Homo sapiens: one gene and its partner. The protein of the gene in region 1 interacts with the protein of each later gene in a pairwise test. Each region holds a gene or a part of one and is shown on either strand. Other genes may lie near its edges.

Region 1 (8,995 bases):
CTCAAAAAAAAAAAAATAGAGAGAAAAGAAAATGCCATCTGCGTGCTCTTTGCAAACATTTCCCCATCTGCGTGCTCTTTGCAAACATTTCCTCCCGAAAGTCTCCCGGAATGATAAAAGCAACCACACAGCCTGGCCACCTAGAATCTGGGTCCGCTTGTTCCAGGCTCAGAATCTTTTTCCTCTCAGCCAGTCTCATCTTCCGGGCTGTCAACAGCGTGTGCAGGGCCGCAGGATTTATAGGTAATGACATGCTTCTAATTCTCCATTACCTCCAAAGATTTCATCTTCCCCTTTTCTAAATCCTTCTTAGGAGATACTTGTCAGGTTCATCTGGCCCAGCAGCTTCTGACAAGGGGACCCCGCTCATCCCCGTCATCTCTGTGACTTCATGTAAATAGCGGCACGTGGCGGCCGCCTTTGGCCCTCGGCCCCGAATCCATTGCGGAGTCTCACTTCCATTAATTCTTAATTTGTGACCACGCTTCCTTTTCTGTTCTGTGTTTAAATGGAGATGTGATTAGTAAGGTAATAGGAGAAAGCCGGGGTCCTCACGATGCAACGTGCATTTCTGCGCCTTATAGAAAATTGGATAGGCGTCATTATTTCTTCCAGTAGCAGAGTGCATTCTGACATCTGATTGCTTGAACTGTGATATTTCCATACGCCATCCATCACCCCGGCCACGGCGGCACGCTGAATATTCAGATTAAATTGGAACTTTTTCCCTATGAATAAGGGATTTCATTCTATCCTATAAGATACACTGTCTCCGGGGAGAGGAAATTGAGTTGAAGGTTGCTGAAAATCGTATTATCCAAATACAGAGTTCTTTTCCTTATCATCAAAACCTGAAACACAGCCGTGGGGAACCGAGAGGTCAGGAGAGAATTCAATTAGAGAGGAAAATGGAAAAGGGAGCATTTTTCCACTTACGTTTTATTTTGCCAAGCAGGTGGCAGCGGGCGCCGCTCGGGACAAAAGGGGCGATGTGTGAAGGGTTTTTGGTTTCTGGAAGATGGATGAGGACACAGCCTCAAGGAGTTATGAAGAGGCAGGAAAACCTCTACAGCAAATGTTCCATCCTCTCCTTTGCCGGTTTTGGACGAGGTATCTGTGAGAGTTCCTGGCCTCTTACTGCCACAGTTACGGTGGTTTCTTTTTTTGGGAGGGAGTCTCGCTCTGTCACCCAGGCTGGAGTACAGCAGCGCGATCTCGGCTCACTGCAACCTCCGCCTCCACCGGGTTCAAGCGATTCTCCTGCCTCAGCCTCCCCAGTAGCTGGGATGACAGGTGCACGCCACCACATCTGGCTAATTTTTGGATTTTTAGTACAGATGGGGCTTCACCATATTGGCCAGGCTGGTCTCGAACTCCTGACCTTGTGATCCGCCCACCTCGGCCTCCCAAAGTGCTGGGATTATAGGAGTGAGCCACCACTCCCGGCCCACGGTTAGAGTCTAAACTGTGCACGCTGCCTGGAGTCCCCACCTCTCCTCACCTGAAATATGCACTCGGAAATGTGTTTCCAAAACCTGCAGAATGCAGACCCACACTACTTTCCTATTTATTTATTCATTTTGAGACAGAGTCTCGCTCTGTCGCCAGGCTGGAGTACAGGGGCATGATCTCTGTTCACTGCAAGCTCCGCCTCCCGGGTTCAAGTGATTCTCCTGCCTCAGCCTCCCGAGTTGCTAGGGTTACAGGTGCCCGCCACCACGCCCAGCTAATATTTGTATTTTTAGTAGAGACGGGGTTTCACCACGTTGGCCAGGCTGGTTTCGATCTCTTGACCTCGTGATCCACCCCTGTCGGCCTCCCAAAGTGCTGGGATGACACTGTGCTCGGCTGGGTTTTTTGTTTTTTTTTGTTTGTTTGTTTTGTTTGTTTGTTTTAAGTCATCGTGCGGAATGCAAGCGGCAGATATAAACTTGATCCCTCTTTGACCTCTCACTGCACGCACCTAGCTGGGAGCTTTGGGTCGGCGCAGGACCAGGGAGATCCTACTTGCCAGGTGCTTCCTCTGAGGCATCTCCAGGTCTGGAGCTTTAGTGTTCGATCAACCACCCAGGTCTGCGGGGCGAAGGCCGACTGAGATCCAGAGCATGTCATACAGTGGGTGAGTTTGCATTTCTGAGCAGCTGCAGGTGGGGCAGAGGCTGCAGAGGCTGTGGCCACACAGGAGACCCGGGCTCAGGTGGATGAAGGAAGGAGCTTCTCTCCCTCTACAACCGTTGTGGCTCCCTCCTTCCTCACCTCCCTGGGAAGCGCTGACCCAGCTCTTTGTTCCTGGACCTACATCCCACAGAGGAGCAGAGTCTTCCGGAATCTTCCTCGCTACTCTTCCCTCCCCATTCTCGCTTTTTATTTTATTTTTATTTTTATTTTTTCGAGAGGGAGTCTCGCTCTGCTGTCCAGGCTGGAGTGCAATGCTGTGATCTCGGCTCACTGCAACGTCTGTCTCCTGGGTTCAAGTGATTCTTCTGCCTCAGTCTCCCAAGTAGCTGGGATTACAGGCACCCGCCATCATGCCCAGCTAATTTTTCTATTTTTGTAAAGACGGGGTTTCACCATGTTGGCCAGGCTGGTCTCGAACTCCTGACCTCAGGTGATCTGCCTGCCTCAGCTTCCCAAAGTGCTGGGATGACAGGTGTGAGCCACCACGTCTGGCTAATTTTTGTATTTTTGTAGAGACGGGGTTTCAGCATGTTGGTCAGGCTGGTCTCGAACTCCTGACCTCAGGTGATCCTCCCACCTCAGCTTCCCAAAGTGCTGGGATAACAGGTGTGAGCCACGATATCTGGCTGCTTTTTAAAATTTAATGCTTTTAGGGACAGAGTCTTTCATTCCTGCCTCGGCTGGAGAGCGGTGGTGAGATCTCGGCTCACTGAAGCCTCAACCTCCCAGGCTCAAACGATCCTCCTACCTCAGCCTCCCGAGTAGCTGGGACCACAGGCACACGCCAGGATGCTCAGCTAATTTTTAAATATTCTCTAGAGATGGGGCTCGCCATGTTGCCAAGGCTGGTCTTGACCTCCTGGGCTTAAACAATCCTCCTGCCTCGGCCTCCCAAAGTGCTGGGATGACAGGTGTGAGCCACCATGCCTGGCTAATTTTTGTATTTTTGTAGAGACGGGGTTTCACCATGTTGGCCAGGCTGGTCTCGAACTCCTGACCTCAGGTGATCCACCACCTCGGCCTCCCAAAGTGCTGGGATGACAGGTGTGAGCCACCGTGCCTGGCTAATTTTTGTATTTTTGTAGAGACGGGGGTTTCACCATGTTGGCCAGGCTGGTCTTGAACCCCTGACCTCAGGTGATCCACCGTCTCGGCCTCCCAAAGTGCTGGGATGACAGGCATGAGCCACTGCAATCTCCCGGCCTGCCCTCACCTTTCTCTCCCCAGGACAATTCTGGTGGCCACCCACCACCCCTGCAAGACGGACAGACCCGAATGGGCAGGGCGTCCATCCGGCTGTGGAGCAGCTTGGATAATTGCAGCTGGCCACATCCCAGCAAACTCTGCAACACCTCAGGCCCTGCCAGCCTTGGGGGCCCGACAGCACCTCTTTGTTCTCCCAGAGCAAAGCCTGCACGGAGTGGGCCCCCGGGCCCCAGCGCAGACTGAAGGCGCATTCTGTTTCTGCCCTGAGTTGATTTCTGTCCTGTTGGCCCTGGGCCTCACTACACTGTGCCCCAGTAACCTGGCAGAGAAAGGCCTCTTGTGCAGGCATTCAAAGGAAACCCTTTCCCCTCAAAACTGCAGTGATGCTTCCAACAGTGACTCGCAGCTCATCGAAACACCCAGAATGAAAAGCACGTTTGTTCCTTGAAAAGACGTCTGTGTCCGATACATACTCAAACAGAGAACTGTATTAATATATTCACTTCCCTCCAGAAATCACAGCATCGCACACACACACAAACGGTTGCTTCCCAATTAGGAAAAATAACTTCACAGAATTCCTGCGTGATGGCGCTCTTCTGACCAAGTACACTCGGATTTTTATATCCAATCACGAAACACAAACTGAAATTCAAATCATTATGTACACAACACAAAACTATCGTTTATGAGTGATTTAAATCGGGTGCGGTGGCTCACGCCTGTAATCCCAACGCTTTGGGAGGCAGAGACAGAGGCAAAGGCAGGAAGATTGCTTGAGGCCAGGAGTGTGAGACCAGCAACACCTCGTCTCTATAAACAATAAAATTAAAAATGAGCCAGGCATGGTGGCGCATGCCTGTTGTCCCAGCTGCTTGGAAGGCTGAGGTGGGAGGATCGCTTGAGCCAGGAGATCAAGGCTGCACTCAGCTAAGATCGCAGCCTGGGTGACGGAGCAAAACCCTGTCTCATACGAACAAAAAGAGTTATTTAGGCCGGGCGTGGTAGCTCACGCCTGTAATCCCAGCACTTTGGGAGGCCGAGGCGGGTGGATCACTTGAGGTCAGGAGTTCGAGACCATCCTGGCTAATACGGTGAAACCCTGTCTCTACCAAAAATACAAAAATTAGCCAGGCGTGGTGGCGGGCGCCTGTAATCCCAGCTACTCGGGAGGCTGAGGCAGGAGGATCCCTTGAACCCGGGAGGCGGAGGTTACAGTGAGCTGAGATCTTGCCATCGCACTCCAGCCTGGGCGACAGAGCGAGACTCCAACTCAAAAAAAAAATAAAACTAAAAAAAGAGTTATTTTTTTTTTTTTTGAGACAAAGTCTGGCTCTGTCGCCCAGGCTGGAGTGCAATGGTGTGATCTCAGCTCACTGCAACCTCCACCTCCTGGGTTCAAGCAATTCTCCCGCCACAGCCTCCCGAGTAGCTGGGACTACAGGCACACGCTACTATGCCCGGCTAATTTTTCTATTTTTAGTAGAGATGGTGGGGGCGGTTTCACTATGCTGGCCAGGCTGGTCTCGAACTCCTGACTTCGTGATCTGCCCGCTTCAGCCTCCCAAAGTGCCGGGATTACAGACTTGAGCCACCGCGCCCGGCCAAGGGTTACTTATTGAGTCTGGCTCGATTTATGCAGCTCAGAAGTAGGAGAACCTGGCTCATAAAAGACCTTGAAATTACTCTCTAACAGGGTGCAACACCAGGTGAAACCCTATTTTGATAAAAAATGAATAAAAAGCGGGGCAAGATGTAAAGGAAACAGGTGCATGTGTGCCAGACAGATGATAATGCAGTGTTTTTATGGATACTGTTAAAAGCAGAAACAAAAACGACCATTGGGTAAAGTTATTTAACTAATGTCACCTCCCTGGACGTGGATGATTTTTGCAATTTTCAACGCACTTCACGCTCATCCCTGAACACCAACGTTTAAAGGGGTCCAACTCCTCCAACCTGTCTCTACTGTTTGATAAGCAAAGCTAAAGTAAACGGGGCCCTTTGGGTCCCAGGTAGCCCGCTGTTATTGAAAAGTTTGATCTTTTCCTCGCGCGCTCCCGTAGGACGCACGCTCGCTCCCGAGCTCGGCGGGCGCGCACCCCGCATGCTCGCTCGTTCCCGGTGCCTCCCACTGCGCAGGCGCACTCCCGTCCTCCAGCCCCACCCGCTCACACACCTCCCAGCCTCTGGCTTGCGCCCCGCGGGCAGCCATTGCGCACGCTCACCCGACCGGCCTCCCGAACTCCGCTCCTCCACCGCTATGCACGGCGCATGCTCCATGCGGAGGTTCCACCCTCTCCTCGCTCTGGCAGGCACGCATTGCGCATGCTCGCATTTCCGCAGCTCTAGGACTGCCACGCCGCCATGGGCCGCGCCTCTAAAAATCCTAAACGCAGAAAGAGCTCGGGCGGTACGGCCGCCACAGCCCCTCCCTCGTCCTCACCGCAGCCGCTCGGCCCCACCAAAGCCTCCTGCAAAAGCTCCGAGGGCCGCGGGGCGCGCGTGGCTAGCGGCGGCGTCGCCTCGTGATGACATCGTCGCGATGACGCGACGCAGTGACGTGAACGCGGGCGCCCTTGTTTGGGAGCGCGGCCGGCGCGCCCGTTTTGAAGCTGCCCTGAGCAGCGCGGGCCGGACCGCGCCCCCTCCTCGGTCCCCGCGCCCCGCGAGTCCGCGCAGTTCCCGAGGCGCGGGCCCTGTTCCCTGCGCCGCGCCCCCTCAGCGGGCCGTGCTCGCATCACCGAGGTCGGTCCGGGGCGGACCGAAGCCCCCGGGGCGGGGCGGGGCGCGGGCGTCCGGGGGCGCCGCGGGCCCAGCCCCCGCCATGCCGCCCGGCAAAGTGCTGCAGCCGGTCCTGAAGATGAAGGTGGACGAGCTGTTCCTGTACTGGCTCAGCGAGGCCAGCACGCAGCGGATGCTGCAGGACTGCCTGCGCCGGATCAAGGCGCCCGGGCGGGACCAGCCGACCCCGGGGGACGGGGAGCAGCCCGGGGCCTGGCCCACAGCCCCGCTCGCCGCCCCCCGGCCCAGCGGGCTCGAACCCCCGGGAACCCCCGGGCCGGGCCCTGCGCTGCCCCTGGGCGCCGCCTCCAGCCCCAGGAACGCGCCCCACGTTCGAGGCACCCGTAGATCCGCAGGGACGAGAGTAGTAAGTTACTCTTCCTTCTGCTAACAACTGCGCAGGTGGCTCTGGTCGCATAGTGGGCGTGTGGCTGCGCGATGGAGGCTGGTGGGCGAGCGTCAGACCCCAAAACGGTTTCATATTGAGTCTGTTCCCCGCCCCGACCCCCCCCACCACACACATACAGACAAGAAAGTCCCACGTACTGAACATTCCGTCATTGACAGTTGTTAACCTAAAAATCACACAATTTATAAAGGTAGAAAGGCTTCCTATTTTATTTTATTTTATTATTTTAATTTGTTTTAATTTTGAGACAGAGTTTTGCTCTGTTGCCCAGGCTGGAGTACGATGGCGCGATCTTGGCTCACTGCAACCTCTGCCTCCCAGGTTCAAGCGATTCTCCTGCCTCAGGCTCCCGAGGAGCTGGGACTTACAGGCACGTGCCACCACGCCTGGCTGATGTTGTATTTTTAGTAGAGACTGGGTTTCCCCCATGTGGGCCAGGCTGGTCTCGAACTCCTGACCTCAAGTGATCCTCCCGCCTTGGCCTCCCAAAGTGCTGGGATTTCAGACGTGAGTCACTGCGCCTGGTCCGTTTTTTATTTATTTTACAATTCTTTGGAGACAGGGTCTTGCTCTGTCTCCTAGGCTGGAGTGCAGTGGCGCAAACACAGTTGGACTTCCTGCCTCAGCCTCCCCAGTAGCTGGGATTACAGGCGTGCACCATCACGCCAGGCTAATTTTTGTTTATTTATTTATTTATTTATTTTTGCAGAGACGAGGTCTTGCTATGTTACCTAGAGTGCTCTGGAATTCCTGGGTCCAAGCAATCCTCCCGCTTCGGCCTCCCAAAATCCCACTGTATTTCTTAGAAGAAACGCCATTTATTTCATAGAAGGTGATTATACACCGCAGGTGAGAAGCGCAGCCTCTGGCTAATGTACCTGTAATCTCAGCTACCCGGGAGGCTGAGGCAGGAGAATCACTGGAACCCAGGAGGCAGAGGCTGCACTCCAGCCTGGGCACCAGAGCAAGACTCCATCTCAAAAAAAAAAAAAAAAAAAAAAAAAAGAAAACTAAAAACAAGCACTTGGAGGGAAGAAAAGATGAGACGGGAATTTATGCTGAGTGGGTTGGCCAAGTGTATATATTCAAGAAGTTATAGGAAGAGCTATGGATATTCACCAAGGGTGTCCTGACGCATGGGTATTGAACAAACATGCATGTTACCTACTCCCGAGTTCACCTTGGAGCGGAGACTTAACATTTAAATGCATTATGGTTAGGCCCCCTAGGTCAAAAGGTGAAGCAACTCTGCAGCCTCTGTCAACCGGCCAGAACCAGTCCGTGGTGAGTAGTTACCAGGATAAAGTGATTGCAATCAGTTTTTTTTTTTTTTTTTTTTTTTTGAGACAGATTCTCACTCTCACCCAGGCTGAGATGCAATGGTGCAATCTCAGCTCACTGCAACCTCCGCCTCCCGGGTTCAAGCGATTCTCCTCCCTCAGCCTCCCGAGTAGCTGTGATTACAGGCGCACACCACCACCCCCGGCTAATTTTTGTATTTTTAGTAGAGGCAGGCTTTCACCTTGTTGGCTAGACTGGTCTCAAACTCCTGACCTCAGGTGATCCACCCGCCTCAGCCTCTCAAAGTGCTGGGATGACAGGCGTGAGCCACCACACCTGGCCTGGAATCAGTCTTTTCCCAGTCAAAGCTGTAGTTACGGCTGGTGGAACAGAGGGGTCTGTTCATCAGGATCTGACAGGAAGCTGCAGGTGTTTTAATATTGTTTATATTGGTCAGGCATGGTGACTCACGCCTGTGATTCCAGCATTTGGGAGTTGGAGGCAGGCAGATCACTTGAGTTCAGGAGTTCGAGACCAGCCTGGGCAACATGGCGAAACCCCATCTCTGCTAAAAATACACAAATTAGCCAGGCGTGGTGGCGCACCTGAAGTCTCAGCTACTCAGGAGGCTGAGGCAGGAGAAATGCTTGAAGCTGGGAGTCGGAGATTACTGTGAGCTGAGATTGCACCACTGCTCACCAGCCTGAGCAACAGAGGAAGGCCCTGTCTCAAAAAAAAAAAAAAAGTATATATATATATATAGAGAGAGAGAGAGAGAGAGAGTCTTCTTGCGTGCGCGAGCTTGAGGCCAAGATAAGCAATAGAGAAAAAGAAAAACATCCTTTATTTACTTCTTGAATCTCAAAAACGAGTTTCTGCAGAGGTCTCTAGTGAATAACCTAAAAGGACATTTAGCTGCTGGAGAAAAAGAAATGCTTTGGCAGTTGGAACTGTAGTTTATTCTTTAAGTGTAGGCGGTGTGTGACTTAACCCTCACCTCAGGTGGCCCTTGGTCTTGTTTGCCACAGAGTCTGTTCTGTCAGTCTTACGATGTTGATTTTAACCTTTTTGCTGGTTGGTTGTGTTTAAACTGCCAAAGCAGGAGGGGTATAATAAGGTGTGTCCAAACTCCCATCC
Region 2 (6,191 bases), on another chromosome or scaffold:
TGGTTTATAAATGGCAGGGTCAGGATTTGAATTCAGGCAGCCCGTGCCCAGAACCTAAGCACTTAAATCACTGTCCTCTCCTACCTTAGCCTGATTTCTCAACACTGGAATTTGATTTTTTTTTTTTTTTAATTTTTGAGGTTAGCACTTGTTGCCTCAATTTGACATTAACTGAATTTATCTGAAAATGCAGAGTTGATTTTGACAAATAAATACATTTTAATTATGTCATATAGAATTGCAGAATTTACCTCAAGAACTCTTTGCTGTTGACCCAACTACCGTTTCACAAGGATTGAAAGATGAGGTTCTCTACAAGTGTAGAAAGTGCAGGTAAACTATTTTATATCCTTTGGATATTTTATCTTGTCTCAGTAGCTGAAAAGTACTTAATGTTTTATTTTCTTAAATTTCTGTAGGAAGATTTTGTTTAATTGAAATTTTTAGTTCAGATCTGTTTTCAGAAAGAATATAAATTCTTAAAAAGAGAAATAATCAGATTGTAAGGGTTATTGAAAATTTAAGTAGTGTAATCAATGTTACATTATTTTGTTCTCTAAGCAATATTGCACATTTTGCTGGGCGCAGTGGCTCACGCCTGTAACCCCAGCACTTTGGGAGGCCGAGGCAGGCAGATCACCTGAGATTGGGAATTTGAGACCAGCCTGGCCAACATGGTGAAACCCCGTCTCTATTAAAAATACAAAAATTAGTTGGGCATGGTGGCTGGTGCCTGTAATCCCAGCTACTCAGGAGGCTGAGGCAGGAGAATTGGTTGAACCCAGGAGGCGGAGGTTGCAGTGAGCCATGATCACGCCACTGCACTCTAGCATGGGCGACAGAGTGAGACTCTGTCTCAAAAAAAAAAGAAATACCGCACATTTCATCCATGTTTTCATCCTTTTGGAAGTCATTAATGCTTTTGTTTGTTTGGGGGTTGCAGGCGATCATTATTTCGAAGTTCTAGTATTCTGGATCACCGTGAAGGAAGTGGACCTATAGCCTTTGCCCACAAGAGAATGACACCATCTTCCATGCTTACCACAGGGAGGCAAGCTCAATGTACATCTTATTTCATTGAACCTGTACAGTGGATGGAATCTGCTTTGTTGGGAGTGATGGATGGACAGGTGAGAACACATTTTATTTTCTACAATTTTATTTTATGATCTATATTTTATTCCTTCTTGCATTTTAAGCTCTATTTTAACTAGTGTTTTGCTCCATTTCTTAATTTCTTTATTTCTGAAGATTATATCTTTCTAGTGTAGATAAGACTATCAAAAATAAAATATTTTTCAAAAACCAGCTGATCCAACATAGTGAACTACTTCTGGTTGAGAGCCCTGGTCTAAGTTAATAAATTTCCTTTAAGGCTATTTATATTTTTTTCAAATATAAGACTAACATTTATTTTTAAACTAATTAGAATATATTGGCTGGGCACTCTTGCCTCATTAGCTCATGCCTGTAATCTGAGCACTTTGGGAGGCTGAGGCGGGAGGATCACTTGAGCCCAGGGTTTCGAGACCAGCTTGGGCAATATAGTGAGACCTCATCTCTATAAAAGAAAGTAAAAAATTTTTAATAAGAAAAAAAGAAAAGAAAAAATGTATTAAACAAAATTTGAACTTTGTAACAAGATAGGGTAAATCAGGGATTTTAAAATTAGGTTAAAAATTCTGTCTTTCTTTTTCTCTGTTGGCTTCCTGTATGTGTCTTTCTCTTTTTTCTTATCTTTTAGGAGAGTGAAATTTAGTTTGTTTTGCTATGAGATTCTTTTTCATTTCCAGTTAAATAATGCAGCTCATCCTATTGCTCCTGTAACCAGTGGGTAGGGAAATAAAAAAAGAATGCAGTTCATGTGACATTTTACATAAAAAAGTGTTTAACTTGGTTGGAGTGTGCCATGACAGCCACATTTCTCCTTTAGGTTTACTTGATATTAATGTGAAGGTATTCTATAATAATCATCTTAATAATGATTTTGAAAGTTTGTATGGTTTGTATAAAAGTTTGTATAGTGGCTAGTTTATGAAACCCTTTCACTGTATTATACCATTTGAAGAATGCCATAGCTTTATAAAATAGGTAGAGCAGTTATATTCACGTGTTGTGCATGAGGAAACTGTTTATGAGTAGTGTCTTGCCTAGAAAGTGGTACCATATAATCAAACTCACATTTTCGGATAATGCTGCTTTTTTTAAAAAAAACAGCCTTATTATAGTATAATTCACATAACATGCAATTTACCTATTTAAGGTGTATAGTTCAGTGGCTTTTAAAGTGTATTCACAGTGGTTTTTGCAACCATCGTGTATTAGTCTATTTTCACACTGCCATAAAGATAGTACGTGAGACTGGGTAATTTATAAAGGAAGGAGGTTTAATTGACTCATGGTTCTGCATGGTTGGGGAGGCCTCAGGAAACTTATTATCATGGCAGAAGGGAAAGCAGGCCACTTCTTCACAAGGCGGCAGGAGAGAGAAGCATATGTGAAGGAGGAACTGTCAAACACTTATAAAACCATCAGATCTTATGAGTGCTCATTCACTATCACGAGAACAGCATGGGGGTATCTGCCTCCATGATCCAATCACCTCTCTTCTTCCACACTTGGGGATTACAATTTGAGATGAGATTTGGATGGGGACACAGAACCAAACCGTATCACATCACAATTCACATTCCCACTCTTCCCATTCTTTTTTTTTGAGACGGAGTTTCACTCTTGTTGCCCAGGCTGGAGTACAATGGCACAATCTTGGCTCACCACAACCTCTGCCTCCCGGGTTCAAGTGATTCTCCTGCTTCAGCCTCCTGAGTAGCTGGGATTACAGGGATGCGCCACCACGCCTGGCTAATTTTGTATTTTTAGTAGAGACGGGGTTTTTCCATGTTGGTCAGGCTGGTCTCGAACTCCTGACCTCAGGTAATCCACCTGCCTCAGCCTCCCAAAGTGCTGGGATTACAGGCGTGAGCCACCATGCCCAGCTGCAATTCCCATTCTTGATGGTATTATTTGTAGCAGTTAGAGATTTTAATTTTGATGGTATCTAATTTATCAGTTTTTCTTTTTTGTGGCTTGTGATTCTGGCTTTCTAATTTTACTTAACCTGGGAAACACACACACACACTCCAGCCAAGTTAAATACATTTTTATGTAAGATTCTAAATCCTGTGCATACTTATTTGTATACATATTTGATTTTTTTCTGTAGAATATGTACCTAGAAGTGGAATTCCTGGCTCGAAGAATGTATTTTAAATATTAGTGATATTCCAGGCTGATATTCAAAATGCCCATACAAATTTGGTTTTCAGTAACTGAATGCATGTACCCGTTACTCCATATCCTTGACATAATAGATACTATAAAACTGGTAACATTTTGTCAGTCTGTGGGGTAAAAAATGTTAATCCTAAAATGTTTAATTGGAATTTTATGAAAATAGTCATCAACCACCATCTTTATATATTTACCAGCCATTTACTGTTTTCTTTTCTATAAATTGCTTTCATATTCCTAGGCCCATTTGCCTATGGGTTTTGTCTCTTTCTTACTCATTTGTAGGACCTCTATATATTCTAGATGTTAATAGTTCATCTAATATATTGCAACTATTTTCTTCAGTCTATTGCTTATCAGATTTTTTATGTTTTGTCATATTAAAATGAAGGATATTTACATAATAAAATTTGTTAGTTTTTTTATTTATGGCTTCTGAATTTCTTTTTTTTGAGACGGAGTCTTGCTCTGTTGCCCAGGCTGGAGTGCAGTGGTGTGATCTTGGCTCACTGCAACCTCCGCCTTCTGGGTTCAAATATTCTCCTGCTTCAGCCTCCCAGGTAGCTGTGATTACAGGCATCCGCCACCATGCCCAACTAATTTTTGTGTTTTTAGTAGAGACGGGGTTTCACCATGTTGACCAGGCTGGTCTCAAACTCCTGACCTCAGGTGATCTGCCCGCCTTGGCCTCCCAAAGTGCTGGGAATTACAGGTATGAGCCACCACACTCAGCCTGCTTCTGAGTTTTATGTCTAGTTTTCTATAGCTCAAGATTAAAAATAAAAACTCTTACCTTATACCATGCATAAATCAAAGAGCTAAACATAAAAATTAATGCTATAACTAACTACATTAGAAGAAAATGCAGTTGCCTTATTAGGCTTTTTTGATTTACCTATTTTCCTGGAATATCAGTTTGTCTTTAAATAGCTAAGAATCTGACTTATATGCTGTCAATACACACAGTTAGTAATACAGCATGAAAATCCTAACATGCTTTTCTATACTTTAGCCGTGATCATTTTCATTTGAAGTCCTAAATTACAAACTGATTTAAAAGCTATATATATATATATATATATATATATATATATATATGCCACATCCATGAAACCTTCCTTAATCAAATCTCAAGCTTCACTTTTCTCCCTTCAAGCTCCCTGAATACAACATTCTTCCTATGAGATAATTGTAGTCTACTATCTATTACAGTAAATTTCCAATGCATTTTATCTCACTGATTAGATTATAAACTCAACGTGGGGATCGTGTCTTGTTTTTATATCCTATATTGATTGCCAAAGATAATGATTTGTTTTGTATAAAAGTGAATGAATAAAGTAACACATTTGCTTTATTTCAGCTTCTTTGCCCAAAATGCAGTGCCAAGTTGGGTTCCTTCAACTGGTATGGTGAACAGTGCTCTTGTGGTAGGTGGATAACACCTGCTTTTCAAATACATAAGAATAGAGTGGATGAAATGAAAATATTGCCTGTTTTGGGATCACAAACAGGAAAAATATGAACATGATATTTTATAGCTTGGGAAGAAACTTGCAGATGATATGTGCTGCCTTTGCTTCTTATCATTCATGGCAGATTGTTTGTGCTTTCAACATTTCATTTGAAATGGGAGAAGATAAAATCACTTGATGTAACCTGGAAACTATGCTTTACATGGCAATCAAAGCCTTTTGATCATGTACATTTTATTTGATATTAAAATCTTTTATAACCAGATACTGTCTGTGTTTCATATATTTTTAAAAGTTTTGATTGTTGGAATGTTATATGATCTTAAGGTCTGTATAGACAAAATTATGTACAAAAATTTGAAACTATTATATTTAAATGGGTATTCTTTTATTTCCAGACACATAAAGCAGATTTGTTTGGACATATTTTGGAATTATTTCACTTTCTTTCTTTTAAGGGACATTAGTAAACCCATACATGTCTGGATTTTTTTCTTGGAAATGGAAAGGCCATTAGTAAAACGCTGATTAAAAGGCAATTTTCCTATTACTGTTCAGTAATCCCAATTATCTATATTTTTAGAAAAGTGTTTGAGATCCCTTTTGAAGTGATCTACATAAAGAAATACATAAATGTTAGATGTGTTTCTAATGATGAAGAAAACAAATGTAGAGTTACTATATATCAAGTCATTTTGTAGCCCAATATGTGAGTATTGGAAAAGGTAATACGTCCAGATTAGTTTTTTAACCTGATGTATAGAAACTAGAATTATTTTACTCATTATTAATAATTACAATTGGACCTAATTAGATATTTGAACATTTACAAGAATCAGAATTAACTAATAAAGGCCAGGTGCAGTGGCTTATGCCTATGATCCCAGCACTTTGGGAGGCCAAGGCAGGCAGATCATTTAAGGTCAGGAGTTCAAGACCAGCCTGGCCAACATGGTGAAACCCTGTCTCTACTAAAAATAAAAAAATCAGCCAGGCATGGTGGCACACGCCTGTAGTCCCAGCTGCTTGGGAGGCTACTCCAAAAAAGAACAAGAATTAATAAAGAAAAATATTCTTTATTTTTGTTGTAAATTAAGTTGTAAATTCACTAGTCATGCTCCCCACCATTTGCAGGGTTCCAACAATAGTACACATTGAGGCTTATATACATAAACACCGTAGTGGGAGTAATTTTTAAATGCAAAAATATGTTGTGAATAATGATCCTCTTAATAAATGCCTAGCTCAGTTTTTTAAAGGTATAGGAGTGTTATGGAAAATTCTTGAGAAAAATCTTAACATTGGACCTGAAGGCTTTGGCAGTTTCCATGTAATAATTTTTCTTTCTATTTTTTTTTTTTTTTTTTGAGATGGAGTTTTGTTGTTGCCCAGGCTGGAGTGCAATGGCATGATCTCGGTTCACTG

What was found. The genes of interacting proteins can lie anywhere in the genome.
Region 2: the proteins of PPP2R3B (region 1) and DUSP12 interact in binary tests that used the Homo sapiens proteins (3 or more experiments, as listed by UniProt).

What each region holds. Positions count from the first base shown.
Region 1 is NC_000023.11:383,908-392,902, reverse strand, and holds the start of PPP2R3B (serine/threonine-protein phosphatase 2A regulatory subunit B'' subunit beta), read left to right. Parts: upstream 1-5,995; 5' UTR 5,996-6,211; coding exon 6,212-6,535; intron 6,536-7,797; exon of another isoform or gene 7,798-7,861; intron 7,862-8,995. UniProt on the Homo sapiens protein: The B regulatory subunit might modulate substrate selectivity and catalytic activity, and might also direct the localization of the catalytic enzyme to a particular subcellular compartment.
Region 2 is NC_000001.11:161,752,132-161,758,322, forward strand, and holds the end of DUSP12 (dual specificity protein phosphatase 12), read left to right. Parts: intron 1-236; coding exon 237-333; intron 334-943; coding exon 944-1,130; intron 1,131-4,654; coding exon 4,655-4,816; 3' UTR 4,817-5,107; downstream 5,108-6,191. UniProt on the Homo sapiens protein: Dual specificity phosphatase; can dephosphorylate both phosphotyrosine and phosphoserine or phosphothreonine residues. Can dephosphorylate glucokinase (in vitro).